4 linked regions of the Homo sapiens genome follow. The protein of the gene in region 1 purifies or fractionates together with the protein of each later gene. This does not show direct contact. Each region holds a gene or a part of one and is shown in the gene's direction. Other genes may lie near its edges.

What was found.
Region 2: the proteins of DDI1 (region 1) and NRIP3 purify together in Homo sapiens (affinity purification with mass spectrometry; 4 studies listed by BioGRID and IntAct, with this or other methods). This does not show direct contact.
Region 3: the proteins of DDI1 (region 1) and RSC1A1 purify together in Homo sapiens (affinity purification with mass spectrometry; 3 studies listed by BioGRID and IntAct, with this or other methods). This does not show direct contact.
Region 4: the proteins of DDI1 (region 1) and USP47 purify together in Homo sapiens (affinity purification with mass spectrometry; 3 studies listed by BioGRID and IntAct, with this or other methods). This does not show direct contact.

The regions. Positions count from the first base shown.
Region 1 is NC_000011.10:104,032,557-104,039,736, forward strand, and holds DDI1 (protein DDI1 homolog 1), read left to right. Parts: upstream 1-4,083; 5' UTR 4,084-4,266; coding exon 4,267-5,457; 3' UTR 5,458-6,640; downstream 6,641-7,180. UniProt on the Homo sapiens protein: Probable aspartic protease. Seems to act as a proteasomal shuttle which links the proteasome and replication fork proteins like RTF2. Required, with DDI2, for cellular survival following replication stress.
Region 2 is NC_000011.10:9,000,871-9,008,319, reverse strand, and holds the start of NRIP3 (nuclear receptor-interacting protein 3), read left to right. Parts: upstream 1-4,318; 5' UTR 4,319-4,384; coding exon 4,385-4,558; intron 4,559-5,724; exon of another isoform or gene 5,725-6,405; intron 6,406-7,449.
Region 3 is NC_000001.11:15,654,579-15,662,602, forward strand, and holds RSC1A1 (regulatory solute carrier protein family 1 member 1), read left to right. Parts: upstream 1-5,134; 5' UTR 5,135-5,290; coding exon 5,291-7,144; 3' UTR 7,145-7,455; downstream 7,456-8,024. Other genes in the region: DDI2 (protein DDI1 homolog 2), read left to right, coding at 2,039-2,055. UniProt on the Homo sapiens protein: Mediates transcriptional and post-transcriptional regulation of SLC5A1. Inhibits a dynamin and PKC-dependent exocytotic pathway of SLC5A1. Also involved in transcriptional regulation of SLC22A2.
Region 4 is NC_000011.10:11,949,691-11,956,971, forward strand, and holds part of USP47 (ubiquitin carboxyl-terminal hydrolase 47), read left to right. Parts: intron 1-198; coding exon 199-314; intron 315-673; coding exon 674-792; intron 793-3,050; coding exon 3,051-3,181; intron 3,182-5,206; coding exon 5,207-5,254; intron 5,255-5,343; coding exon 5,344-5,474; intron 5,475-6,310; coding exon 6,311-6,485; 3' UTR 6,486-7,281. UniProt on the Homo sapiens protein: Ubiquitin-specific protease that specifically deubiquitinates monoubiquitinated DNA polymerase beta (POLB), stabilizing POLB thereby playing a role in base-excision repair (BER). Acts as a regulator of cell growth and genome integrity.

The DNA.
Region 1 (7,180 bases):
AAAAAGACAATTATTTTGCTTAGTACAGCAAGAGATAGTAGTTTAAACATCAACTGACTATCATAACTGAAACCATCAGTTATGTGGATTTTTTTCTTTTTTTTTTTTGCTACATTTTTAGAAAGAGGCAAATTACAAAAGGTATTGTGGATTTATTAAAAAAATAACTTTGGGGTTATTTACTTGGTTAGTATGAAATCAGTACCATCTCTTCTGTTTTCTGGGCATTTAGGCCATACAATTAGAATTGATTTCTGAGTGATAGCCTGGAGACTCTGCAGGAATCTCACTTATCAAAAAAAATTTAATTATATTCTTATATTGTACTTACTAAGGGAGAAAAGTAAGGGAGTATACTTCACAAAGAATTCCTCAAGAAAAGTTTTGATAACCTCAGTTACTTAGATTTACATACCTCAATAATTCAGATAACCCATTTCTCAACAGACTACATGATAGGGATTTACGGTATAACAACAGTTTATGTTTAGGGGTGTGTGTGTGTGTGTGTGTGTGTGTAATATATTTTATATATATATATATTTCCAATTACCTCCAAGTTCATTATACAGTCAGAAGAGGTTTTCATTTAAAATTCTGAGTTGGGACAATTATACATATGGTATTTGAATCACAAATCATGCTGGGTAAAATGAAAGAATCAAATGATGTATACACAGAAGTACTAAACACAGGAGGCTGTGTTTACCTTTACAGATTCCAGGCTGTTTTGCAACAGATATAAGGGGTGGATGGGTGGCTGGACTATGGAATCCAAGGGATCCCTGCCAACCCTGACATCCTGTGACCAATGAAATGATGACAGCTCATTGGCCAGACCTTGAGGCTTTTTGCTTTCCAGTGTCTGTTCTCAGTAAAAGGTAAAATGCTGAAAAACAAATAAATGTAAAGTGCCACCCAAAGTAAAAAAATTACAGTGAGATAATAAAACACATCACATAGAATTTAAATATGTTCAGTATGAAGGCAATGGTATAGAAAAAAAGATGTTAGTTTCTTTTCATGTGAACTCACAATTTTTGCTTTATGAAAAACAAAAGGAAGCTTATTCTACAAAAATAATTTCATTTGCTATTAAAAAAAACAAAAGCCCCAGTATAATCCTCCTCGCTATGGTTTTAAGAACAAATTGTACAAAGCTATTTGGGGAAAAAAGATAAAGGAAAACTGAATTAAAGTCTTACTGGTTTCTCAATCTGTTCTTTAGCAGAGTAGTTTGCATGTGACATCTCACATGATAATTGTTTCCAAACTCAGGGGAAAGCACTAGTAATCTCTGATAAACTTGTCAGGGTGCAAAGAACCATAACATAATATTATTGAGTCAAAGGGTCATTCATTCATCTGTAAAAATGGTGAAAATTACAATGCTAGATTTTTTTTCTTAAAATTAAAAAATAATCCTTATATGATGAAACACTGTCTTTCCAGTTGAAAGCTCTAAGTCAGGTCATCTTCCTTCTCACCTTTGTGTCTCCACTCTGGCGCACCCTGCATGGCTGACTCCTTGTCATCTTTCTAAACCCAGTTCTTTCAGGATGTCTTCTCTCCCCAACATCCCTCACCATCTTCTTCATCTCTTCTTCAGATATTATTAATTTCTCCTGAATACCACTACTGTGGTATTTTTTACCCTTCAATTTGTGTGTGTGCATGTGCTCTAATTTAGACTGTGAGCTCCTTTAAGAATACAGCCTATATTTAACATTATTCACGTCTGTTTCCCTAGAACTTAGCACATGCTTCACATACACTGGGCGTTCAGTCAACATTTCTAATATAAGCAAATATGAGTATAGAAACATTATGATAATTAGAGCAGTGAGCGAGACATAGTCTTCCATCTGAGACAAATACATGAGAAACAGGAGCCAAAAAATAATTATTTAGGCTGATGTGACTTCCTTCTCTCCATAATGGAATAATGGTGTAACAGTGCAGGCCTTCTAACAACCCTTCAAAGAAGGGGGTGAAACTAGGCAGAGGATATCGACTATCTTGGTTCATAAGTAGGTACACCTGGGAGTACCAAGCCAGGGAAACATGAGCTCTGCACAGTGCAAAACACTTTTTTTTTTTTTTTGAGATGGAGTCTCGCTCTGTCACCCAGGCTGGAGTGCACTGGCGCAATCTCGGCTTACTGCAAGCTCCACCTCCAAGGTTCATGCCATTCTCCTGCCTCAGCCTCCCGAGTAGCTGGGACTACAGGCGCCCACCACAACGCCTGGCTAATTTTTTGTATTTTTAGTAGAGACAGGGTTTCACCATGTTAGCCAGGATGGTCTCGATCTCCTGACCTCTTGATCCGCCCACCCTGGCCTCCCAAACTGCTGGGATTACAGGCATGAGCCACCGCGCCAGGCAGCAAAACACTTTATTAAACATAGAGAAAAATAACTGGCATGCAAGGATTTCTACCCAATCATCATTTGCCTTGAAGGACTTTTCACCATGACAGCCTTGTATGTGTGTGTGTGTAAGTGGGGGTGGGGGAGAGTAGGGAGAAGGTGGCTGTGCCCAAATGTCAGAGAGAGGCATATTGGCCTCTAGGGTGGCATCCTTAATGAATTTTCCTACAGAACTGATGTCAAATGGGTCACCTCAAAGGTTCATCTCACTCATTCATTCATTCCCCTTCAAGGCAATGGCCCATCTACCCTATATCCCATTTTAGAGACCCTCTGTGTTATCCACACATTCCACTTTTTTACACTCCCCACCTCCAAGGGGTATGCACACTCTGTCCATTTTACTCAAGAAACATGTTTATTCTCTACTGCTTTGGCTTTGGGCCTCCTGACTTTCCACACTCTAGCAACAGCTCCCTCTTTGAACCACTGGAAAAGCCTCCTGACTGGCCCTCCTGCCACATTATGTCCTCCATGTGTTGCAAGAAGCCTCTTCCTTAAGTCAATTTAAAAAAAAAAATCACAAACACCTGCTTCAAATCTTTTCCCTTTCCTTTCCTTCCTTACTTCTTTTTCTTTTTTTTTTTTTTTTTTTTTGGAGGAGGAATTCTTGCTAATTGATAATATTTAATATTTAAACTCCGTAGATTCACATATGACTTCATCAATTGGCTCAACTAATTTTTTTCCAGCTTCATATCCTGGTATTCAAAGTCATGTACAATTTTTTTATTGCACAAAATGTCTCATCTTTCTCTAGAAATAACAGCCCTTGCCATAAATTCCTGCTTTTGTAACATGAAACTGCTTTCCTTTGGAGTGAGACCACTTTGCACCTGGAAGATGCTCATCCTTCAACATCCAGCTTGTCTCCTCCTTAGGAAAATATCCTCTGTTCTGTTGGTGATACTAAAGGCAGTACCCTGAACATGTCTTTGTAAAAGATTTTGCCTTTAGTATTGTGATTACCCATTCACCTGTCTATCCCTTTCCAGAAATGTGAGCTCCTCAAGGGCAGGCTCCAAATCTGACTTTCCTACTATGCACATAGAATGGTACTTGCCATGTAAGAAACAAATCCTTACTGTTTGGGGAAAAAACAAAAGTACAAAGAATACAACTCTAAAATGAACAAAACAAATGATAATATGCTGTTTAGAAAGTGTTGAAAAACTAGGCATGGTGGCTCACACCTGTAATTCCAGCACTTTGGGAGGCCGAAGTGTGGGGGATTGCTTGAGCCCAGGAGTTGGAGGCCAGCCCGGACAACACAGTGAGACCCCAAATCTATTAAAAAAAAATACAACAATTAGCCGGGCATGGTAGACTGTGCCTGTAGTTCCAGCTTTTCAGGAGGCTGAGAGAGGAGGACTGCTTGAGCCTACGAGGTCGAGGCTACAGTGAGCTGTGATTATGCCACTGTACTCCAGCCTGGGTGACAGGATAAGATCCTGTCTCAAAAAAAAATGTGTTGAAATCATTTCTTTCATATCATGTGTTAAATAGGCTTTGAAGGGCTGGCCTTGAAACCTGACAGCTTTGAGCCATCGTGTATCCATGGGAGTAGGCATTCTAGGTTCCAAACAGCACACTTAGAAATGGACTTTGGAACACAACGTGCTACCTCAAGGCTCCACCTGGCCACACAGCAGGCACTGAGGCTGGGAGACAGCCCCCAGACAGATGAGTGTCCGCGCCTCTCTGAGAGGTGAATGAGCCCGGACGGTCCCTACCTACCAAGTCCTGAGGAGCAGCGGCACCAACGACGCAGGCCCGCCCCAGCCCGCCAGTGAGCCGCCCATGCCCTCTGCTAGCCCGGCCCGCCCGGGCCCCCGCCATGCTGATCACCGTGTACTGCGTGCGGAGGGACCTCTCCGAGGTCACCTTCTCTCTCCAGGTCAGCCCCGACTTTGAGCTCCGAAACTTCAAGGTCCTCTGCGAAGCGGAGTCCAGAGTCCCCGTCGAAGAGATCCAGATCATCCACATGGAGCGACTCCTCATCGAGGACCACTGTTCCCTGGGCTCCTACGGCCTCAAAGATGGCGATATCGTGGTTTTACTGCAGAAGGACAATGTGGGACCTCGGGCTCCAGGGCGTGCCCCGAACCAGCCTCGTGTAGACTTCAGTGGCATTGCGGTGCCTGGGACGTCCAGCTCCCGTCCACAGCACCCTGGACAGCAGCAGCAGCGCACACCCGCTGCCCAGCGGTCACAGGGCTTGGCGTCAGGAGAGAAGGTGGCCGGCCTGCAAGGTCTGGGCAGCCCCGCCCTGATCCGCAGCATGCTGCTCTCCAACCCCCACGATCTGTCCCTGCTCAAGGAACGCAACCCTCCCTTGGCGGAAGCCCTGCTCAGCGGAAGCCTTGAGACCTTTTCTCAGGTGCTGATGGAGCAGCAAAGGGAAAAGGCCTTGAGAGAGCAAGAGAGGCTTCGTCTCTACACAGCCGACCCACTGGATCGGGAAGCTCAGGCCAAAATAGAAGAGGAAATCCGGCAGCAAAACATTGAAGAAAACATGAATATAGCGATAGAAGAGGCCCCCGAGAGTTTTGGACAAGTGACGATGCTCTACATTAACTGCAAAGTGAATGGGCATCCTTTGAAGGCTTTTGTTGACTCGGGCGCCCAGATGACCATTATGAGCCAGGCTTGTGCCGAGCGATGTAACATCATGAGGCTGGTGGACCGACGGTGGGCTGGGGTTGCTAAAGGAGTGGGCACACAGAGAATTATTGGCCGTGTTCATCTAGCTCAGATTCAAATTGAAGGTGATTTCTTACAGTGCTCTTTCTCCATACTTGAGGATCAACCCATGGATATGCTTCTAGGCCTAGATATGCTCCGGAGACATCAATGTTCCATCGATTTGAAGAAAAATGTGCTGGTCATCGGCACCACTGGCACGCAGACTTATTTTCTTCCTGAGGGAGAGTTGCCCTTATGCTCTAGGATGGTAAGTGGGCAAGATGAGTCTTCGGACAAGGAAATTACACATTCAGTCATGGATTCAGGACGAAAAGAGCATTAAAGCACGTTATAAATATGTTACCACCTTGAGGGAGCCTCAGGTCCCCGGCAATTATAAGTTAAGAGCTTACTGGCAATGTAATCATTAAAAAACATCAGTAACAACTAAACCTGGCCTTGGGACTACGTTCTCAGATGGGTAACTAACGTCAATCCTGATTCCTTGGTCTTGGTCCCTCTTCCATTTCCCTTGTCCAGAGATCACTGAAAGGCATCCTGGGAAGGCTCTGGAGGCTCCAGCTGATTTCCAGATAATCCATGAAAAAGAAAACCAGCTTCTTCCTTTAGAGACACTATCCTATCAGATTACAGGTGGCTTATCCAAATCATTGCTATTTTGCAGAATTCCCTGGAAAAATGCTATGGCTGCAGACCTTACAAGGCATCCACATAAAACTATTTCACATCAGCACTAATAATTCTTTCTACTGAGAGAAATATGCCCATTTTCACAGGTTTTGTTTTCTTTGGGAAGGGTATTAGAAATGGTAGGTCAGTTACACTATGATGTTAACTAATACTTATACATGTCTGTTTGGGGCAGCATAAAGACCAATTTCCTCATATTTACACCTTCCCTTCCCCTGGATCCCCTGCAGTCACCCTGCAATCCACAGCTAAAGACTATTTTTGCCATATTTGAGAAAGTGGATTTATCTCCAAGGATGCTACATTAATTTTCTATTTCTCCTGCATTCAAAGAAACTCTGGCTATAAAACAAAGGCAATAAATTAGATTTTTTAAAAAAGAAATTATGGTACTTCTTGGGAGTCAAGTTGTACAGTGGTGGGAATGAGAGGTGGGGACAGGCAGTGGTCCAGGTTCTCTAATAGTCATTGCAACTAGATCATCTCTCTCTCTTTTTCAAAGTAAAAATCTGCTTTATACATTAAGCTGCTGCTACATCAGTATTGTTTGAACAAAGGTTTTCACTGTTAAAATAACATTTGAAAACTTTTGAATGAGAAGATCTCTAAGGCCTCATTCAGAATTATCCATTCTGACAATGTTAGTGTTTATTACAACTGACAGTGGGTAATGGAAGATCCTAGACTTAATTACAACCCATGGCTAAAGCACCTGAGAGAAAAGTTTCAGCTTCCTGAGGCCATCAGATGCAGGGGAAATGTTTCAGGACAATAATTTATCAAAACTAGTATTAAAACAGCGGATTCAAAATCAAGATGTGTATGTTTTGATTACACTTAATTACTTAGACAAATTAGTTCACCTACTTTACAACTGAGATTCCTCACCTAATAATTTTTTTTTTCCTGGGAGGGGTCACTTTTCAAGCACTAAAACCTCATTATCTTAAAGGATCTGGGATATCCTTTAAGTTATTCTATTTTCCCGACAAGATATAAAGCCACATAAAGCATTCCCAAAGGATACAGAAAAAAATAACTCTCCCTTATAATCTCCATATACTTTTTGTTTTGCTTCTTGGTAATACTAATCAACCTTTCTAAAGAGAGTCACCTCTTCCTTTCTAGCCACCATCAGTTCACCTCCCATTTTTCTTCTCTATAGGTGTTCCCATGCTCACATTTCCCAGTCTGGTCTACATTTGCACAAAGTTTTATACCCAGTAGAACTACTAAAAATGATCAAATGAACAGATTTCTTTCCTACTTTTGTTTGTAATTAAGAACTCAAAACAAATGCAATTAACAAAAAAAGACATTCAGAGTAAAGTCAGGGATAAGCAAAATGCTTATGA
Region 2 (7,449 bases), about 95 Mb from region 1:
GCTGCCATCAGCCCTGTTTCTTGAGGTCATGGTGATGTTGGCAATCACTCTGAAGGAAGAGGACAGAAATATCTCTTATCTTTGCTTTAACTGCCAAAGCAGACACAGTTTTTAGAGCTGGGTGCCAAGTCAGGGGTACCATGTAGCCAGAGATCCTGGCACACATCTGGATAGCTGTTCGAAGAATCTTCCTGCCAAAGGGGGTTGGGGTAGTGGTGAGGACATCTGAGGAGGAAAGGGATCCTACAGCTATAAGGATGGGGTGGTGCATGATGAGGGTCCTAGGAGTGGCCATTCTGACTTCAGGGTATGGCCAAGGGCAATATGCATGGGTAGGGAGGGAATGGGGAGGAAAATTTCTTGGCAGTCTCCCCTTTATCCTCTGCTCTTCTCCTCTACTTTTTAGGCCTCCAAGCCTCAGCACTCATCCTGTTTCTCATTCTTAAAGGCCTCTCTGTTAGCTGAAGACCCAAAAGAGGGTTGCTAGGAGAATAGGTTGTAAGCCTAGAGTCACAAATAGCCATCAGACAGGAAGGGTCTGCCTACAGGGGCATCAGCTCAGAGGAAAGCAGAGCTGAAACACAGTGATAATGTCATTTGAGTCTTTGGATCCAGCCATGCCTGAAGCCCTGCACTTTTAAATTAAGGGGACCAAAAATTTGCATTTTCACATAAGAAATTTTCAACTGGGTATCTGTCACTTATAAGAAGAATAACGTGAATAGCATTCTAACACTGAAACAGTACTGGATTTTCTAGTATGATTTTCAAGTACAGGTCTTCTATAACAGCCAAGGGAGGATGCAGAGAACTTTAGGATAGAGCCATTGCACATGGAAAGTCCAGAATCTGGAGACACTGAGGAGAGGAAGAGAGCTGGCCAGCCCCTGCCTCAGCAGGCCTCTGCTCTAGGGATAGGGTAAGATACTCAAGTCTGGCTTCATGTCTGAAGCTCTGTAGGGAAGCCTGGAGAAAGGATAGGCCAGCCCCAATTCGAGGGTTCTGCAACCTACAGTTTTTCCTGAAGTTGTTCCAGGTAATGATGGTTGCTACCTTCTGCTGAGCCTATGCTACATGACCAATGTATTACACTGTCTATCGTTTTATTTCTCACAGCAGCCCTGAGAAGTAGAGATATTGGCACAATTTTCTAGATGAAGAACTGAAAGCTCACAATGGTGCAGTAACTAACTAGTCACATAGCTAGTAAGCAGCAGAGCAGGGATTCAAATCTAGTGTATTAGACTCCAAAACCTGTGTTTTTAACAACCATATTGTATGTTACTTCCTCCAAGATGGGTCAATGAGGCAGGGGACGTTGATTGGCTATATGGAGAATTAATAATAATCTTTTCTGTTGGTACAGCCCTAGAGAGTTTACAAAGCACAATTGTATATGCAGTCTCACTACATCCATTTTACAGATATGGAAACTGAGGCTCAGAGGTAGGAAGTGATTTACTCAAAGTCATTTGGGCAAACAGGATAAACCACCCAGAGATAACTCTCCTTAAATTAAGCAGGCAGTCTGTAGTCTGCGAATACTCATAATGTGTGGGGGGAGGAAGGAGCTGGCCTCACCACACTGAACCTTGAGGGCAGTGATGGTATCAGTCTGTCCAAGGAAGGTCTCAGACAGGTGAGGGGACCAACAGGTATTGCAGCCACAGACCCAACTGCAGAACACAAATCCCACTACACCAAAGGGCTCTGAATTCACAAAAAGATTCCCAGTTCCAGTCGGGCACCATTTATTTTTCAGCAACACTTGATATGGGCAAATTCCAGTTCAACTAGAGAGATTCAGCTTCCTGGTGTTCCCAGGGGGATCTAGCTCTGAAAAGAGCCCCTTTCTTCTGTCAGGACATCCTCAGCAAAAAAGGCTGCAGGTCTGAGCTGAGCAGCCTGGAGAGTGGGGATTCCAACTCCCCCCGAGAGTGTCTACCTGCCTGGCTTCCTCCCTGAGGAAAGTCACTGTCCCAGCCCAAGCCCTAGGGGCCCTCACTGTTGGACCTGCCCTGATGCTTTGCCAAACTCAGAGGCACCTCTCCTAGACGGACAAGGCAAAGCTGACTTTCACTGTTCCCTGGGTGATCTGCACCTGGAGGAGTGATCAGGCAGGGATCCAGGTGATGGGACAGAAGGGGCCAGGGCAGCCACTGTTGTTCACTGCTGGAAGTGTGCCAGGGGACTGGAAGGTGAACAGCAATCCCACCTGTCTCCTAGAGACTCTGTCCTCCGTGTGTAGGGGAAAGTAGGGGATGGGCACACAGGGAGGAATCCAGCCCTGGGGCTTCCTTGAAGCCAAGTGAGCAGCCTTCTGTATTTGTTTTCCCACAAACAGTCTTTGAAACTGGGGCAAGTGTTGAAGGCAGAACAGAGTAAAAGAAGCAGCTTCATGAGGCCAAACCCAGTCTCTCCAGGTCTAGGTAGTCCAGCACAGGTTCTGGGAGTAAATGCCAGCTTTACCACTTGATTTCTTTGGTACGACCTTAACTTTTTGCCATCCTTTCACTAGTATTTGAGAACCCTCTGCATATTAGGGCATCAATGCTAAGCAAAAAATGGGTTCAGTCACCTTCCTGGAGGTTCCAATCAGTGGAGGAGACAAATATTAATCCAACAACCAGTACCCCCCTACCCCTACCCCCACAGAAAGTGTCAAATGCCCAAGAGATAGATAGTATATAATTAGAGAGACTTCACTCTCTCTGGAAGGTCAGAGAAGGCTTTCCTAAAGAAATGATAATGGAGCTGAGGTCTGGAAGAAGCATAGGAGTTTCCTGAAGAGGGTAGGAGGGGGCACTGCACACAGAGGGAACAGGACAGTCAAAGGCAGGCCATTTGGCAACAGGTGACTGGAAGGAACTGGAAGAAGGCCCATGAGGCTGAAGTACAGAGTGAATATGCAGGGTCTAGGCAGACCATGCAAGAATGTGGGTTTCTCCTAAGAGCAATAGGAAGCCTTTTGAGGTGCTCTTAGCAGGGAAGTGAGATGATCACACTTATCGTTTGAGAAGATTACTCTGGCAGCACAGTGAACAACGTATTGGAATGGAACCAAGGAGCATTCAGGAGGCCAGACAGAAGGTATCAGGTATTTGCCTGTAAAATGGGGGTGATGAGAATACTATCTTACAAGCTGTTGCCAGGATCCAATGAGATACTGCATTTTAAGTGTCTAGTCTAGTACCTGGCACATAGTAAAGGCTCAGTAAGCGTCGATATTGTTACTTTTATCATTGGTTCTTTGCAGAGTGCACATATTTCTTATCCAGGTCTGCTCCTGCGTGATGGGGTGGAGGGAGTAGTTGTGGTTTCCAGAGTGAAAACGTGATTTGTGTCAAATCACAATGTCGAGACCAGAATCCAGGATGCCTGAAGGCCCGATTAGAATGGCTTAAAAGTATGGATTATTCAGGAAGAAAAACGGGTTCCAATCGCTCCTACTAAGGACGCTGGAGGGATGGTGAACGATCCTTTAGATGGTAAGCCCTAGCACTTATTGAGAAAAACAGGTGCTTCTTTGGTCGGAGAGCAGGTGTAGGGCTCGCAGCCGCGTGCGCTCCCGCGGAGGCGGGGGACCCTCGCCACTCCCCCGCCCCACGCCCACCCGCGGGCTTCCGACTGCACCTGCTCCCCCGGCTCGGAAACGCGGGCCGGGTGCCGGGCTGCAGGCAGAGGGTGCCCGGGGGAGGAGGTCCCGAAAGCCTCCTCCACACGCCTGCACCGGCTGCCCCCTCCCCAGTCACGTGGCCCGGTGGGTGGGGACCGACCTGAAGTTGGAGAAATCCGGAGCGCTCCCAACCTCGGAGGGAGTCGCCAGTCCTCCGGGCCCGGGCGGTGGACCCTGGAGCCCCGGCTGGCGGCGTGGAGGTGCGTTTCTGAGAAGCCGAGCAGCGGCGCGGGCGGCGGGACTCGAGGCATGGCCCGGCTGTCGGTGATCCCCGGGTCGGCCACGGCGTGGACAGGTGAGCAGGTACCCGCGGCCAGCGGCAGAGATGGCCGGGGCTGCCAGGGCATCGGGCCCCAGAGCCCACGCCAGTCCAGGGGATGCGGGGCCCCCACGCAGGAGGGGGCGGTTGGGTGAAAAGGCCGCGGTGGATTCTCGGACTGCCGGGTCAGTCCCCACCAGCGCCGCCGCCTCCTCGCCGGCTTTGCCACCGGGTGAGCAGGGGACGCGGGACGCGGGACGCGGGACGCGAGGGAGCCGCGCGGGGCGTGGACTCTGTGCCGGCCCCGCCCCCCGCGCGCGCACTGGCTGCTCCCCGCGACGTCACGCTCGGCTATAAAAGGCGCGGCTCGGGGCCCTTGCGGCGCTGGAGGAGCTCGAGGCTGAGGCTGCCGGGGGGCTGTGGGCTACCGGGCCGCCGGCGCCTCAGCGATGTTTTACTCAGGGCTCCTCACTGAGGGCGGCCGCAAGGAGACCGACATGCGGGAGGCGGCGTCACTGCGACAGCAGCGCCGGATGAAGCAGGCGGTGCAGTTCATCCACAAGGACTCCGCCGACCTGCTGCCCCTGGACGGCCTCAAGAAGCTGGGCTCGTCCAAGGACATGGTGAGCCCCCGCCGCCGTTCTCGCCCCGGCCCCGGCGGCTTCGCGCCCGCCGTTTTCCGAGGCCCGGCCGTTGCGGCTTTCACTGAGTCACGGCCCGGCCCGCCGCTGCCCTTGGCTCGCGGTCGCTGCGTCGCGGATTCCTCCCCTTCCAGTACCCCTGCTGCGGTTTCGGTGGGGATTCCGTCGTAGCTTTTCTAGCTTGCGCTCCCCTCGGCTGTGCCTCCTCCCTGGATGTCTCTTCTCCAGTAGAAAGAAGAGGTCCTGCCCTGCCCTCTTGCCCTCGGGTCTTCTTTCTTTTTCCTTATTCTTAATACCGAATTTTGTTCACGGGGCTTGTGCCTCCTATGCTGTGTGGCTGTTCCTATGACCCAGACAGAGGTGATTCCTAATGGCTTTCCGTGAGGGGGAAAGAAGTGGAAAGAGGGTTTTTTGACAGTTGCCAGATCCAGAGGACTTCTGTTGAATCCATTGTCCCCCTATGCAAAACCCACTTCTCTAGTTTTGGTCCTAACTTTGACCTTCCATCCTGAGTGGGGAGAGAGAAAAGGGGCCAAATGTGAAGGTTTCCTGAACCCCCAACATCTCTTCATCATTCTCCTCTTCCAGCCCCGCCCCCAAGGAGTGGGTAGAGGGAGGAAGCCAGGCTGCTGCATCTCACCGACCAGCTAATGTGTGCATCTGGAGCTGGGGTGGGTGCAGTCTTTTTTTCTAGCACAGTTGTTCCTGGCATTAAGTAGAAGCACCTCAGGACAGGGGGCCTGGGGTCAAAGATGGTACTGTCCTCTTTCTATAGAATGGGATGGATGGCTAAGGGTTACCAATATAAAGAACTGTATTTGTCATCCCTCAGCCACTGTAGTGGTCCTGGGCCAAGTTTATGTTTAACTTTGTAGTTTTATCTGGAGTTTTCTTGTAGTTTGATTGTTTTCTTGAATTTCACAATCGCTTTATTCATTTGGGTGGTAATATGTGAAACACTAATTAAATGTCTTTTAACAAATGAAATAGGTGCTCTGCATAATTTTTCTAGTATTTTTTATTTTAAGCTTTTGAAATATTTAATTTTGGATGTGGTTGTCGGCCCTAGTTCACTGAAATTGCCATTTCTGGCCCCAGGAGGGCAGAGCTTCTGCATCCATTTCCTTTTTTTTTTTTTTTTTTTTTTAATTTAACAGCTCTAATGATACACAGGTACATTATATTATACACAGTATAATATAATATACAAAAATTTTTCTCCTCCCTGCCATTAGTTACTTCTGTGCAGAGTTTGTCTACTTCAGTTATCTTGCTCTGTTTTTTTTACAAGTTGTGTTTTTTTGTTTTGTTTTGCTTTTTGCACAACCCACAGGATAGTTTATCTGATTTATGCTAACCCAGAGTGATAAGTGATTGAAATGTGCTCCTGCAAAAGAGATAACTCTCTTTTCCCTTCTTTCACTTTAAAGCAATCTCGATTCATTTAACAAATCAGGTTCGAGAAGTATTCTTTCCTTCAGGCCAAATAATCCTATCCTAGTTCCTAGAATGCTCAGCAATCAATAAAGAAGGAAGTATTATATTAAGAGAAGAATTAAAATACAGAGTTTTTAAATGCTGGATTTGGTTGTCCCTCGTTGTCGAGGAGTTTCCTAGCCCTGAGAGCTACCTGAACTTCCTTCTGCCTAGGATTTCTTATACTACTTCATGCTGTGTAAGAATTCCATCCGCTTTTCTGACTCTAGTCTGTCTCAGTTGAGTCACAAAGGGCTGATAGCATACAGCACAGGCAGCAGGCTGCAAAGAGGAAGGAGCCTCAAGAAGCAGGATATTGCCTTGAGTATGACACATACACATGACAGTTGACTGTAAGGCTCTGAATCATGGTTCACGCTTTCTGTGCCCCACCGTCATGGAGTTGATTTCCCTCTCTCACTGTTTTCACACCTATAATGTACAAGTGATTGCACAGAACAGCCAGGTTACAGAAACCAAGGCAGACCGAGGTAGGGCTAGGAGAGCCGCAAGCGCTGGGGTGAGGCAGCATGCTTAAACTCTCTTGGAACTGTTGTTGCAGCCTTAGTACAATCTTAGAAGTGACCTTAGAAGTACATTATTATTCTTTTACTTTATAAATACATGTGGGATAGACCAGTGTTGACTCAATTTTCTCTCACTGCAAGGGAAATTTGGAGGATGTTAAAATTAATTGAATAGTTCTTACTTGGAGTAGTTTATAGTATAATCTCGATAGAAGGAGTCCAAGAAAAGGGAGAGGATAGCATCAGAGGGAGATAAGGAAGAGAGAGGAGAAATTAGTTGTTATTGACTTTTGGGTTTGTGAAGATTGTAGGTTGTTTTTCCTCATACCAGCAACCTATATTTGAATATACCGCTGGGATTTCTGAATTATCTACCTCTTACTATGCTGTTTCTGTAATGTTCACTGCTTGATACCAGCCTGCCAGCTCTTTTAGGACTGGCAGAAGGCAACCATAGGAAATCAAAGGGGGTCATGTTCTCTTGGCCCCAGGAAAGTGCCTTTGCCTATTCCTGTGTATCTGGAGTTGGCTGATACAAAGTCTTCTGTGGAAATTATATTTTTGTCTGCCCCTTTTGCTTTTATCCTTTTATCTTGTATTGTTCATTCTGTATTAGATTAAGAACTAAAACCAGAGATATGAGTGAGTAATATTATATTTGATTTTTTTTTTAAGAGACGGGTTCTCACTCTATTGCCCAGGCTGGAATGCAGCTGCAGTCACATCTTACTGCAGCCTCGACCTCGCAGGCTCAAGAGATCCTCCCACCTCAACCTCCTGAGTAGCTAGGATTACAGGTGCACACCACAACACCAATCTAACTTTTGTATTTTTTGTAGAGATGGGATTTTGCCATATTGCCCAGGCTGG
Region 3 (8,024 bases), on another chromosome or scaffold:
CCAGGAGGTCAAGGCTGCTGTGAGCCATCATCGCTGCCACTGCAATCCAGCCTGGGTGACAGAGTGAGATCCTGTGTCCAAAAAAAAAAAAAAAACAACAGAATTGACTCCCATCACTTTTTGGCTCAAGTTTTTATATTAACTACAGTTTTGGTTGTAACTTAAGTATTTTGTAGGAAGGGAGGAATTTTGAACAACCAGACAGAGACTAACTTAATAGTTTTAATCTTACCTGCAAGGTAAGCTTGAATGAATTTGACATAGCTCCTTACAAGGTTTTGCATTTGGGGTGTAATTTATCATCTTAGTCGTGATGCTGTGTGTTAATATGAGGATATATTATCATTTTATGAAATGTCTTTTTTTTTTTTTTCCTTTTAACCTCCACAGTCTTGGTGCCATTATTTAAGAAACATTAGCTGATAATAGCAGTGTTTTCTAACCTACTAATAACAGTTATCCTTTTTTGGTAATTACCTTATTTTAGTAAAAGTTTGGAAGATTAAAACAGATACACATATGTTTCCAGGCTTAGTGAAGGGGATGTACCAACTTCAAAGAATTAAAAAGAAATGGCTTTTTACCTAAATAACCTTTTGTTGCTGGTAGTATAGCTTGTGCTAATTTTTGTAATGTTTAAGTAATGAAATAATTCTACATATCAGGTCCTTTTTATTTAGAACATCGACTTCCTAATATCATCCGAATAAATACTCTGGACATAGTAGGTGAAAGTATTTTGTTAACAACTTCTTTCTGGCCAAGCATGGTGGCTCATGCCTGTGGTCCCAACACTTTGGGAGGCTGAGGTGGGGAGATCACTTGAACCTATGGATTTGAGACCAGCCTGGGCAGCATGGCAAAACACTTGTTTCTAAAAAAAAAAACCACGGCTGGGCGCAGTGACTCACGCCTGTAATCCCAACACTTTGGGAGGCTGAGGAAGGGTGGATCACCTGAGGTCAGAAATTTGAGACCAGCCTGGCCAACATGGTGAAACCTCATCTCTACTAAAAATACAAAAATTAGCCAGGCATGGTTGTGGGCGCCTGTAATCCCAGCTACTCGGGAGGCTGAGGCAGGAGAATTGCTTGAAGCCGGGAAGCAGAGGTTGCAGTGAGCCAAGATTGCACCACTGCACTCCAGCCTGGGCAACAGAGTGAGACTCCTTCTCAAAAAAAAAAAAAAAGAAAAAAAATTAGCCAGGCATGGTGGCATGCACCTGTGGTCCAGCTACTTGGGAGGATGAGGTGGAAAGATCACTTGATCCTGGGGAGATCAAGGCTACAGTGAGTTGTGGTTGCACCACTGCACTCCAACTTAGGCAACAGTGAGACACTGTCTCAAAAAAACAACAAAAAAAAGAGCTTATTTTTTAAATACTTTATACTCTATTATAAACTCTATATTAAAATGTTTTAAAAAAAAAACATGTTTTTGATAGTAGGGATGGTGTCTCACTATGTTGCCCCAGCTGATTTTGAACTCCTGACCTCAAGGGATTCTCCCTCCTGGACCTCCCAAAGTGTTGGGACTGCAGGCCAGAGTCACTGTGTTCAGCTTGATGTATTATTTAAAAACTGATGAAAAGATAAGCTAGGATAGAATTTAATTAAGTGGTTTGTTTTCCTCTAAAATTGAATCTCAGCTGAGAAAGAAATTTGGAAAGGGACTGTTAGATATGTTCACTCACCTTTACTCCATAAGATTTTTTTAATCACCTAATTCGATCAGGTGGATCTACTTTCTTCACCTGTCTCACATTTGCCCGTGAATTCTCTATGTGTAGAAACAAAATTAATTTCTTTACAAGATCTATTAAAAATCTGTTGAAATTAACAGATTGCTGTGTGTATTGTGAGAGAATGGAAGCAACCAACAAATATTTTGGATGTCCAAACTACAGAAACATCCCTCAACTTGGAATCTACCAGTTCCTGATTTTAAAGATGGCAAAAGAACGGAAACTATAACCCTGCATGCTGTGTGGTTTGCATTGTTAACCCAAGTTTGCTTGTCTGTTTCCTAATTCACACAGAGCGTCAGAAGCCATGATGCATGTAGTGTGTGTGTACTGCAGCTGGAGTGGGCCCCAGACCAGGTATTTATAGACACCATGTTAAGCCTTCCATCCAGTTGTCATCTGTGATCTGACAGTCTGTATCCGCAGCAGTTTGGGAAGTTAGCATTTGTCATTCACCATTTCACCTTGTTCAATCTGGTTACAACTAGCCTATATGCATTTGTATTTTGGCATGCATACATGGATATGTAACATAAACTCCTGTTTAAAAATGGATTCGTTATTAGAACCATCCAACAGGGAGAAAATCCCAGTTAAAACAGTGTCTATTATATCTACCCCATCTTGGCTACTATAAATATCACATCAAGAATATTGGCCTCACAACACTTTGTTGTTGGAGATAACTATGCTTTCATGGGTTTCATAAGTGCCTTTCCTCTGAAAAACTGAAAGCTGTTCTTTTACATTACTGCATACAACTACCTGGAGTTATAGAGGGTTAGAAATTTTAATTTTGTTGAAGAAGAAATGGAAACTTAGGCCAGAGGACTTGTCAGGGGTGACTCTGAACAACAGGAACTAAGACTTTGCTTTTCCTTCTGTCTCTGGCCTGACAGATTTTCAGGAAGCACTCTGCTTCCATTTCCTCTGATGTAAATAATGGTAAACATCAGCTCGAATACATTGGCTGACTTACTAAGAGGAGGAAAGATGGTCTTTTAAACCAGCATCATAAGACTTTGTAGGAGTTTGCAAGCTGGTTGGAATTAGATACATAGCATTTAGTTTCTCTTCTTTCTTTCCTTTTTCTTTTCCTTGTAAGGATAGGTTAAAAGCAGGCATAGTTGAATTATTCTTAATATCCACTGTCCTCATCCTCTTCTCCTGTCATTCTGTAAACTGACCTAGTCCTCCCCTACGTTTAGGACTTAGGCTAGTGAAACTGACCTTCTCAGCTACAAGAGGACTATATGCTACTTTTTTAGTACAAAATTCATTGAGGGTGTGTTCACCTTGACCTCACTTGTTTATAACTAACACACAAATACCAGAAGGCCCTTACCATACCTCTTTATGTTGCTTACATGGATATTTCACTACAGTGCATTGTTTCTGTTAACATTAGTTCAAAATTCAACCTCTTCCAGAGTCAGCCTTAGTTTTAAATAAAACTAATAACTGTTAGACATCTGGTGGTATGAAAATAAAAAAACTAATAACTGTGTTTCTAGACTCTAATGGGTATAGCCTAAACTGAGATAAGTGCAGTTTTCCTTTTTACTCCTAAAGTGTAAGTAAGGTAAGATTGTTTCATGGGAAGTCAATAGCTTCCTGAAACAATGCTTTGTCTTCTCATGCTGTTAACCAGTAGTTTATTAGAATGATTTAAAGCCTTTTGAATATAACTGCTTTGCTGCTTTTTAAGATCAAGCCCTCTTGTTGGATGTTAACATTTAGTACTGAGCATTTGAGTTGCATCTGTCCTAATAATAGATTGTATTTTGAAGTCATTTTTGTTACTGACCTTTTGATTTTTATTTTTTATTATTATTATTTTTTATTTTGACTGAGTTTCACTCTGTCACCCAGGCTGGAGTGCAGTGGTGCAGTCTTGGCTCACTGCAACCTCTCCCTCCTGGGTTCAAGCAATTCTCCCACCTCAGCCTACCTAGTAGCTGGGATTACAGGCACCCACCACCACGCCTGGCTAATTTTTGTATTTTTAGTAGAGATGAGGTTTCACCACGTTGGCCAGGCTGGTCTCGAACTCCTGACCTCAGGTGATCCACCTGCCTCGGCCTCCCAAAGTGCTGGGATTACAGGCATGAGCCACTGTGCCCAGCCCTTTTTGATTTTTAATTAAAGATCTTACAATGGTCGGGTGCGGTGGCTCTTGCCTGTAATCCAAGCACTTTGGGAGGCTGAGGCGGGCGGATCACCTGAGGTCAAGAGTTTGAGACCACCCTGACCAACGTGGAGAAACCTCATCTCTACTAAAAATGCAAAATTAGTCGGGTGTGTGGCGCATGCATGTAATCCCAGCTACTCTGAGGCAGGAGAATCGCTTGGACCCGGGAGGCGGAGGTTGCGGTGAGCTCAGATGGCGCCATTGTACTCCTGTCTGGGCAACAAGAGCAAAACACAGTCTTAAAAAAAAAAAAAAATTCTTACACTTACATGCGTAGAGGTCAATTTTTAACTGGATTGGTGGCAAAAGAAGAGCTGGAAATGATGTTTAATGATACTATGATGCTTACACTGAGCCGTCTTGTTTGGGTGGTCTAAGGTAGCAGTGAATCTAAATAGTCATTGCCAGTTGAAAAACTATTAATGAACCATCTCCCTCCACATTCCCCTTTCTTTAAAACATTTAAATATTCTTAACTTAGTTGCACACTATTGATGTGATAAAAACTTATAAGCCTTTTAAGTTTAGAGTTGTATTATTTGGTAGGATGATGATTGTGATTTAATCTGCTGATCATTAGTTTACTTTTGTTTTCTGAGTCAGATGCTCACCCAGTTTTACCATGATTTTTGGAAAGCTTGGCTAGAAATAAAATAGAACATTTGCTTCTCTGTCCCCAAGCATTATGTTATTTCTTATTTCTCTTTATAATTCCCTCTCTGTCCAGGTATACCTGGTTTAAGACTTCTCATTTGTAACCTCAGTGTTCACATTTGAAACAAGAAAAGTGCATTAACATGAGAATCATTCTGGTGCAAAGATTCTCAGGATTTGTAATATCCTTAAGAATCACCCAAGGAGCTTATTGAAAATGCACATTCCTGGATTTACTCTCAAGTATGGTACCCCAGGGTCTGCATACTTCACAAGCGTCCCTGGTGGTTTTAGGGCAAGTGGTGAAAAAAGTACACTTGGAGAAACTATTCTAGAGTTGTAGACTAGACTAGGGAATAAAGAAACATAAATGTCCTTCATTCCTGAGCACTAACCCCGCCATTATGTGAATGCATATTAATGGATACTTAATCACATTGAATTACAGTATGCAGATTTTATTAAGAACATGTCTACCTCTTATTCTGATGCTGTGAATGTCTACCACAATGAGAAAGTAATTTTAAAATCATTTCTATTTGTGTAAGAGAAACCCGAGTTTGAGGACCTTATTTTATTCTACGCTGTTTAGATTTGTATCCTCTGGTAATTTAGTGGCATTAGTCACCTGCTAATTAATCTTTTTCCTTTCCCCTGTGTTCCATATAGAGAAAAGTGGTAAAGAATCTACCTCACTGGGAATGTCATCATTACCAACTTCAGATGGGTTTAACCATCCCGCCCGTTCTTCAGGACAGAGTCCTGATGTTGGTAATCCTATGAGTCTTGCTCGCTCTGTCTCTGCTTCAGTCTGCCCTATCAAGCCCAGTGACTCAGATCGCATTGAACCTAAAGCTGTGAAGGCTTTGAAGGCTTCAGCTGAATTCCAGCTAAACTCTGAAAAGAAAGAACATCTTTCTTTACAAGATCTTTCTGATCATGCTTCCTCAGCAGACCATGCTCCAACAGACCAGAGTCCAGCTATGCCTATGCAGAATTCATCCGAAGAAATAACTGTTGCAGGTAATCTGGAGAAATCTGCTGAAAGAAGCACCCAGGGCCTCAAATTTCATCTCCATACAAGACAGGAAGCTAGTTTATCTGTCACATCTACTAGGATGCATGAACCACAGATGTTTCTAGGTGAAAAGGATTGGCATCCAGAAAATCAGAACCTGAGTCAAGTGAGTGACCCTCAGCAGCACGAAGAACCAGGGAATGAACAGTATGAGGTTGCACAACAAAAAGCTTCACATGACCAAGAATATCTTTGTAACATAGGGGACCTTGAGCTTCCTGAAGAAAGGCAACAGAATCAACACAAAATTGTTGATTTGGAAGCTACGATGAAAGGAAATGGGCTCCCACAGAATGTGGATCCTCCAAGTGCGAAGAAAAGTATTCCATCTTCAGAATGCAGTGGCTGCTCAAATTCAGAAACATTTATGGAAATCGATACAGCTCAACAGTCCCTAGTTACTTTGCTTAATTCAACAGGCAGGCAGAATGCCAATGTCAAGAACATTGGTGCATTGGATCTCACTTTAGATAATCCCTTGATGGAAGTAGAAACATCAAAATGTAACCCTTCATCTGAAATTTTGAATGATTCCATTTCCACTCAGGATTTACAGCCCCCAGAAACTAATGTTGAAATACCTGGAACAAATAAAGAATATGGCCATTACTCCTCTCCAAGTCTCTGTGGCAGTTGTCAGCCTTCTGTGGAGTCAGCAGAAGAATCTTGCCCGTCTATAACGGCAGCCTTGAAAGAACTTCATGAACTTTTGGTTGTTAGCAGTAAACCAGCTTCAGAAAATACATCTGAAGAAGTAATCTGTCAATCAGAAACCATAGCTGAGGGCCAAACCAGTATTAAAGACCTTTCTGAAAGATGGACCCAAAATGAGCATCTTACCCAGAATGAACAGTGTCCACAAGTCTCCTTTCATCAGGCCATATCTGTATCAGTGGAGACAGAAAAATTAACAGGTACTTCATCTGACACTGGAAGAGAAGCTGTAGAAAATGTAAACTTCAGGAGTCTAGGTGATGGCCTGTCAACCGATAAGGAAGGTGTCCCCAAATCTAGGGAATCCATAAATAAGAACCGTTCTGTCACTGTAACCTCAGCTAAAACATCCAATCAGTTACACTGCACCTTAGGTGTAGAAATTTCACCCAAACTTTTAGCAGGTGAGGAGGATGCACTCAATCAGACTTCTGAGCAAACTAAGTCTTTGTCATCCAATTTCATATTGGTTAAAGACTTAGGTCAGGGCATACAGAATTCAGTAACAGACAGGCCTGAAACCAGAGAAAATGTCTGTCCTGATGCTTCGAGGCCATTACTTGAATATGAACCACCTACCAGCCATCCATCATCAAGTCCTGCCATTCTTCCACCATTGATTTTTCCTGCCACAGATATTGACCGCATTCTCCGTGCTGGCTTTACTTTGCAGGAAGCTCTTGGAGCTTTGCATCGAGTTGGTGGGAATGCAGACCTTGCACTTCTTGTTTTGCTCGCAAAAAACATCGTAGTTCCTACATGACTGTGGGAAAGTGGGCTAGACCGTTCTCCATTCCCTTTAAACAAAAGAAAGCTCTCTCTATATACACGCACACATACACACTCACCACATATACAGTATATATAGAAACCTGCAAGCAGAATGTTGAGCCAGATTTTTTTTAAAGATTTTTTTCGGCCAAAGTAATTTATGATCTTTTGTCTGATGAATTTGTCTATCCTACTTGTTAAAATTTAGGCCTTTTTAAATGTATTGGCAGTATGTGCATACAGAAGCTTTTTATTCTCATTAAGATGTATCCTGGAATAAAATGGATGGTTTTGTGTGTAGCATACTGTTTTAGAATGAGAGTAAATGCTTTGAAAAGCAGAAGCCATGAGAAATCCCACTACCCATCCAGCTAAAAACAGATGAACTCTCCACACTGTGACTGTGTGTCTGTGCTGATGGCAAGGTATGGTTTGCTGGCTCAGTTGTCAATTTAGAAACTTTTGACCACATAATTTGGTGTTTGGAATTCTACCCAGTGCTCTGTGTATCATGATTCATTAATTATAACAGGAAATTGGAGAATAATTGAATATCTTATCGTAGAGTGGTATGTTTTTATTTGTGTGCTTAGGATTTGACATTTTAATAGGGCGAGCAGGAGGGTTTAAATCTTGGGCTACTTTGTGCATCACAGGCTGCTGCATGGATTGCCATGAATCCTTATTACATTGGATGGGATATTGTGGGGGAGTTACAATGCAAGTGAAACGTGGTGCTACCCAGATTCTTAAAAGAACAGAACAACCATAATTCCATTTGCAGATGTCAAGAACTGTGAGGGAAAAATAATGGCCTAAACACTGGAATTTGCTAGAGTTTGGGTTTGCTAGCATCTCACTGATAACACCTC
Region 4 (7,281 bases), about 92 Mb from region 1:
CAGAGATTTTAAGTAAACTTGCCCAAGATAGCTGAGCTCATAAATAGTGGAGCTAAGGTTTCAAAAAAGGAAGATAGACTCTGAAACTCAGGCCCTTAATTGCAAATAAAATGTTTTGGTAATTTTTATTTTAATGTGTTAATATTAATGTACTTAAGGTATAATTCAAGCTCTGATTGTTTATGTTTATATTTCTAGCCATGCAAGTTTCTGCTAGATGCTGTGTTTGCTAAAGGAATGACTGTACGGCAATCAAAAGAGGAATTAATTCCTCAGCTCAGGGAGCAATGTGGTTTAGAGCTCAGTATTGACAGGTAAAGTAAAATTAATGTCATCAGCGATTTGAAGAAAGACTATGTGGTCAGTTGAAATGGACTGGTATGATTTTCTAAAACTAGGAGAATTAAAATTTCCTGTGCTATTCAGAATTTTAGTATGACAGATTAGTTTAATAGGACTAAACAAGAGTATTAAAATTTTGTTTGGATTTCCTATACAGAATTCTAAATTTGAATTACTGGAAACATTTCTTTATTTCCCCAGATTTTAACAACTCATTATTTGACTTTTGTATTTGAACATAGTTCATTTTTCTTTGGTGTCAGATTAGTGTCAATCTTTAAATTGAGAGTTTCAAATTATAGTCGTTTTAAATGTCTTATCACATTTGTAGGTTTCGTCTAAGGAAAAAAACATGGAAGAATCCTGGCACTGTCTTTTTGGATTATCATATTTATGAAGAAGATATTAATATTTCCAGCAACTGGGAGGTTTTCCTTGAAGTTCTTGATGGTATTTTCAATATTTTTGGGGGGAAGTATCAGTTAGAAATACTCTAGAACTAATAGAAGCCTATAGTTTTTAATCAAATAATGAGTTACGAGGAATCTAATATACATTATAGTGTTTTGTGTTATATTAAGCATAACGATATCCTTATTATGGATTGATGTGATTCCTACCTACGTCTTATCCTTGGGAGTTTTATTTTCTTCCCCTGTGTCCTAATGTAACTGCTTAAGTTGTTTTTGAAAGAATAATCAGTGTCTTTCAGCCTTCTGCTATCTTTCTCTGGTTCCCATTTGCCTTTTAAGTATTCTTTTTTTGAATGTTGAGAATATTAATTCCCCCTTATGAGGAAATTACAAAGTTAGGTTTTTAATACATTTTAAGAAAACTCTGCTAATATTTTCTTAGCCACGTTTGTTCTTTAGTTTCTTTTTTACTATTATGGCTTATTTTGTATTGAAGACATGGTACTGATAATTTATCAGAGACTCAAGAACAATGACTATTTGTGTCCTAAGCCAGGTGGCTTAAAGAATAGAAGTGTATTGTCTCACAATCTGAGATCAGGCTGTCAACAGGGTTGGTTCCTTCTGAGTGCTGTGGGGGAGAATCTGTTCCATACTCTCTCCTAGCTTCTGTGGTTTTTGGCCATCATTGGCAACCTTGGCTTGTAGATACATCACCCCAGTCTCTGCCTTCATCTTCATGTGGTGTTCTTTCTGTGGGCTTGTCTGTCTGTATTGTTTTCCCCTTTTTCATAAACCACTAGTCCTATTGTATTAGGGCCCACCCTGAAGACCTTATTTTACTTTGAGTATCACTGGAAAGACCCTATTTCCAAATAAGGTCACATTCTGAGGTACTAGGGATTAGGATTTCAAAATGTCTTTTTGTGGGGGGCACAATTCAACCCATAGCAGTGACCTTGAGGAGGTCCAAGTAGCAGACATACTTGTCACACCTCCCAGTTTTCGTTATCAACATTGGCACATTTAAAGTATTGGTGTTTGGAGGGAGGCTTATAGGAGGAAAGTTGGCTTTTAGAAGATCACATCAAGGTAAACAACTAGTTCTATATTCTTTTTTTGCTGTTGCTTAGGAAAATTTTAATTTTCCTTTTCTTCTGTAGAAAGTAAAATATGAATTCTGGATATTTTGTTACAAGATTATCCTAGTTTTTAGAGAGCTCAATAATACTAACACCTCATGTATTTCAGGCTGCTTCAGGTCTAATTCAACCATAAATTTAAATGGTTGAAATTCTGATTAATTGACAAGTTAAGTTGGGAGGTAAGGAACAACTAGGATACCATCTACTATGGTGTGTAGGCAAGTGCTCCAGATTGTGATTTCTTTGAGTATCTGGGGTCGTAGGGAATAATCACTGTGCCTGGGTAAGTCAGGAAGAGATCATAAATGACAAAGAAGTCACCCTTGTAAGGATTGAGTATGTATTAGCAGAGATGGATTCATCTGAAAATGGTACTAGATGGTGGGTGCCTGCATCAGTATTATTTCAGTATATTTTCACATCAAGATAGTTGAGTAAGAAATGTCATGTGATTAAATCCAAGAGGTATTTATTGACCTGTAATTTGCCAGACACTGCTAATCCCTTGTGCTACAAAAATGAGTAAGAACCACTTATTGGTGCACACAGTCTGTGGAAGAAACAGAACTGCAAACCTGTCATTCTAAAATAATAGGTACTAAGGGACTGAATCAGTAGAAGTTCTTCTTGTGTACACCAGAGAAAAGTGACAATTGAGTTGATGCTTGAAAAGTGACAATTGAGTTGATGCTTGAAAAGTGACATAATGGAAAAGTGACAATTTTGAAGAATCACTAAATTGGGGAGTAAATGGAAAGAGAAGGATTAATAATAGCTTTAGTGAAAAAAGAGGATAAAGTGAAGTTGATTTGTTTATGATTTTAGATAGGGATAGGAGCCAATAGAGAAACAAAGATTGGAAATCCAGAGAAGAGAGTAATTGGTAATGCAGTGTTCAACAGGAGTCAGGAGGGAGTGGAATTAGGAGTACTGGTTTGAAGAAGAGAGGAATTATCTTCTGAGACTGGAGAGAAGAGAGTAAATATTTCATTCTCAAAAACTCCTTGGGATAATTGGGTTTTTTCTTGTGCCCACTTTTTAAGAGTAACACTTGAAGTAAATCTTTTTGTTTAGTAAGGCACTAAGGGAAAAGTCAAATTATGAACCTTCAGAGGAAATAGAATGATGACCTAATCTTGCATATTCTTAGGGGTAGAGAAGATGAAGTCCATGTCACAGCTTGCAGTTTTGTCAAGACGGTGGAAGCCTTCAGAGATGAAGTTGGATCCCTTCCAGGAGGTTGTATTGGAAAGCAGTAGTGTGGACGAATTGCGAGAGAAGGTAAGTTCATTTTAAACAAAACATGTATCTTATGTTGTATATGTATATCATAATATTAATAAAATATATAATATATAAACAATACATTCTTCCTGTGTTGCGTAAGAGAAAACCTAGGAAGTAGTACCAAACACTGGTGCAGCAACCTTTCTTTTTGGTTTCTGTCACACCTTGTGGCACACTCTGGTTGTTCAGGCTCCTGATTCTTTGAAAAATTACTTTGGCTCCTGGCCATTCAGAAGTGGATCCTCACTTTCTGTTACTTGGACCAATTTTGTCCTAAGTAGTTAGAATTAGTTAGAAGTTACTAGAGTGAATTGCTTTATGTCTAAAAAAAACCAAATGAAGTCGAATTGTGTAGAGAATCCAGATGAAGGTCTGTTTTGCATTTTAAGATGGGATATCTAAGGATCTCTGGGGAAAGGGTGAATTAGTCAATCTGTGGTACTAGCACAATGAGCATTTTGAAAAAGATTTATTTCCATACTTCATACTAAACACAAAAATAAATTCTAAATGTATTAAGTTTATATATAAAAAAAGTAAATGTACTAGGTGAAAATATGTAAAATATTAAATACTAAAAATATTTTCATATTCCTGGAAAAAGATATTTGTAAGCATAATACCAGAAGCCAAAAAAAGAAACTATAGACCACGTAAAAACCTATCCTCTGCATAGCCAAAGAAAAAGGTATTTAAAAAGCAACTCATAAACAAAGCTAAAAGACAATAAACTAGGAGGAAATTATTTGAAGCAGTTATTAAACATGCTGTCCATAATTTATAAGGAGCTACTACCTTAATAAGAAAAAGACGGAACAAATCTAATTTTAAGAAAGACAGCATGAATAGGCAATTTATAGAAAAAGAAATACAAATTAAAGAATAACGTTATTTTTCACTCTTAAATTGGTGAAGATTTAGAAAATCAAAAAATACCTAGAGTTCTCAAGGTTTAGGGGATACAGACAATATATACCTTTGATAAGTGTATAAATTGATATGATTTTTTTCAAGTTCAGTTGGCATCATTTGTCAGTATTTCGGATTTGCAATTAAACATCTGGGAATTCGATCTGTAGAAGTATTTGCAGGTTGGGTGCCATGGCTCACTCCTGTAATCCCAGCACTTTGGGAGGTTGAGGTGGGCAGATCACTTGAGTTCAGGAGTTCGAGACCAGCCTGGCCAACATGGTGAAACCCTGTGTCTACTAAAAATACAAAAATTAGCCAAGTGTGGTGGTGCATGCCTGTAATTTTAGCTACTCAGGAGGCTGAAGCTGGAGAACTGCTTGAACCCAGGAGGTGGAGGTTGCAGTGAACCAAGATTGCACCACTGCACTCCAGTCTAGGTGATGGAGTGAGACTCTGTCTCAAGAAAAAAGAATTTATTTATTTATGTATTTATTTTTGAGACGGAGTTTCACTCTTATTGCCCTGGCTGGAATGCAGTGGTGCGATCTTGGCTCACTGCAGCCTCCGCCTCCCGGGTTCAAGTGATTCTCCTGGTTCAGCCTCCCGAGTAGCTGGGACTACAAGCACATGCCACCACGCCCGGCTAATTCTTTGTATTTTTAGTTGAGACGGGGTTTCACCATGTGCGAGGATATTCATGGAAGTATACAGTAGAGCTTTGTAACTTGGAAAAACTGAAAACAGTCTCAGTGTCCATCAGTAGGAGATAAAATGTATATTGTTCGGTTATTGAAGAGAATGTGGTCACTTTGTATCCTATTCCTCTAGGAACAGAATTATTATATAGAGATATTAATCTGATTTTACATGTTTTAGAAACGTGGGTGTAGTTTGTGTATGCATAGGAAAAGGTCTGGAAGGAATATACTAACTTGGTATTTCTGGGACATGGTATTTGCAGGGTGGCCGCTTTCTGCTTTTTCTTAATTTTTTTACATGAAACATTTTTTAAACTGAGCTATTTCTGTTTGTGGGGTAAAAGGAAAATAACTTTTCTAAGCAAGTTAATTTTTTAAATGAACTCAAATAAAATGTTTTATTTTACAGCTTAGTGAAATCAGTGGGATTCCTTTGGATGATATTGAATTTGCTAAGGTAAAGCCCTGAGAATGTTGCATCTGTGTATTGTGCATGATAAACACAGCTAGTGGCATGATTTATTCATTCATTCTTTTTCTTTTTAGGGTAGAGGAACATTTCCCTGTGATATTTCTGTCCTTGATATTCATCAGGATTTAGACTGGAATCCTAAAGTTTCTACCCTGAATGTCTGGCCTCTTTATATCTGTGATGATGGTGCGGTCATATTTTATAGGTAACATTCACAATGTTTTTGTTGCTGTTAGTAATACATTTTTGGCGTGCATACATATCTTATTTTCCATAAATATCTTTACTGTTTTTATGATATGGAGCGGCACTAACCGGTAGAAATACAGTGACAGCCAAACATGATTATAATTTGAAGTTTTCTAGTAGCCACATTAAAAACAATAAAAAGAAACAGGTGAAATTAATTTTAAAAATATTGTAAACCCAATATATCCAAAATATGATCATTACATGTCATCAGTATAAAAAATCATTTGTATTTTGCATTTTTTTATTGTACTGAGTCTTAGAAATATTGTATGTCTGTTATATTTCCAGCACATCTCAATTTGAACCAGGCATATTTCACAAGCTCAATAGCCACATGTGGCTAATGGCTGTTGTATTGGACAGCACAGATGTAGAGGAAAAAGAATAGTCATTGGAGCCTCACAAATCTGGGTTCAAAACTAGCTTTCTGATTTACCTAGCTCCTCATCTATAAAATTGCAACAATGATGTCTACCTTGCAGGATTTTATGAGAATTAGAGCTGTTGCATGTAAAATAACTGGCACAGTGCCTATTATAGATGTTCAATAATGATAGCTGTTACTACTGCTAATAACATGGAAGTTATTCTCCGCCACTTTTAGAAGTAAGCAATATGTTCCTGTGATTAACACCTTAGAAATCTGGGACATCTCAGTATATAAAATAATATTACTTCACCAGTAACAGATTTCATTATCTTGCTGAGGAGCATCATAGCATTCAAGCATACATTAATAGAGGTGGAGGGCTCTACTGGACTAATATGTGATTAATATTTTATATGTAGGGATAAAACAGAAGAATTAATGGAATTGACAGATGAGCAAAGAAATGAACTGATGAAAAAAGAAAGCAGTCGACTCCAGAAGACTGGACATCGTGTAACATACTCACCTCGTAAAGAGAAAGCACTAAAAATATATCTGGATGGAGCACCAAATAAAGATCTGACTCAAGACTGACTCTGATAGTGTAGCATTTTCCCTGGGGGAGTTTTGGTTTTAATTAGATGGTTCACTACCACTGGGTAGTGCCATTTTGGCCGGACATGGTTGGGGTAACCCAGTGACACCAGCACTGATTGGACTGCCCTACACCAATCAGAAGCTCAGTGCCCAATGGGCCACTGTTTTGACTCGGAATCATGTTGTGCACTATAGTCAAATGTACTGTAAAGTGAAAAGGGATGTGCAAAAAAATAAAAAAAAACAACAAAAAAAGCTAACCTTCTATTAGAAAAGGGGACAGGGGAATGAGTAAACTTCTTTTATTGCGGACAAATGTGCACATAGCCGCTAGTAAAACTAGCCTCAAACAGGATGCTCATAGCTTAATAATAAAAGCTGTGCAAAGGCCATGAATGAATGAATTTTCTGTTTATTTCACTGATGCACACATTACCTCATTGACAATTCAGAAGTAAATCCAACGTGTGTTGACTCTTGGAAAGCAGCAAAAACAGGAGCTGAAGAAAAGAAATTCTTGGAACCAGCCGTAACCCAGTAAGGAATTGTGAAGTTGTGTTTTTATTTTGTTTCATTTTTTGCAGAGTATTAAGAACATTATTCTGGAACATCAGAACGTTTCCCTTAGACCGATCCCAGCAGGTGGCAGCTCAGATTGCTGCAGTGTTGTAATTATAACTGATTGTACTTAAGTTATGGATGTAGAGAATATGTTTCATTCATTTATTCAGCATGTAAATAAAATTGATCCTGTTGAGTTATCATAATTGCAGTTCAACTATCTGCCATGATT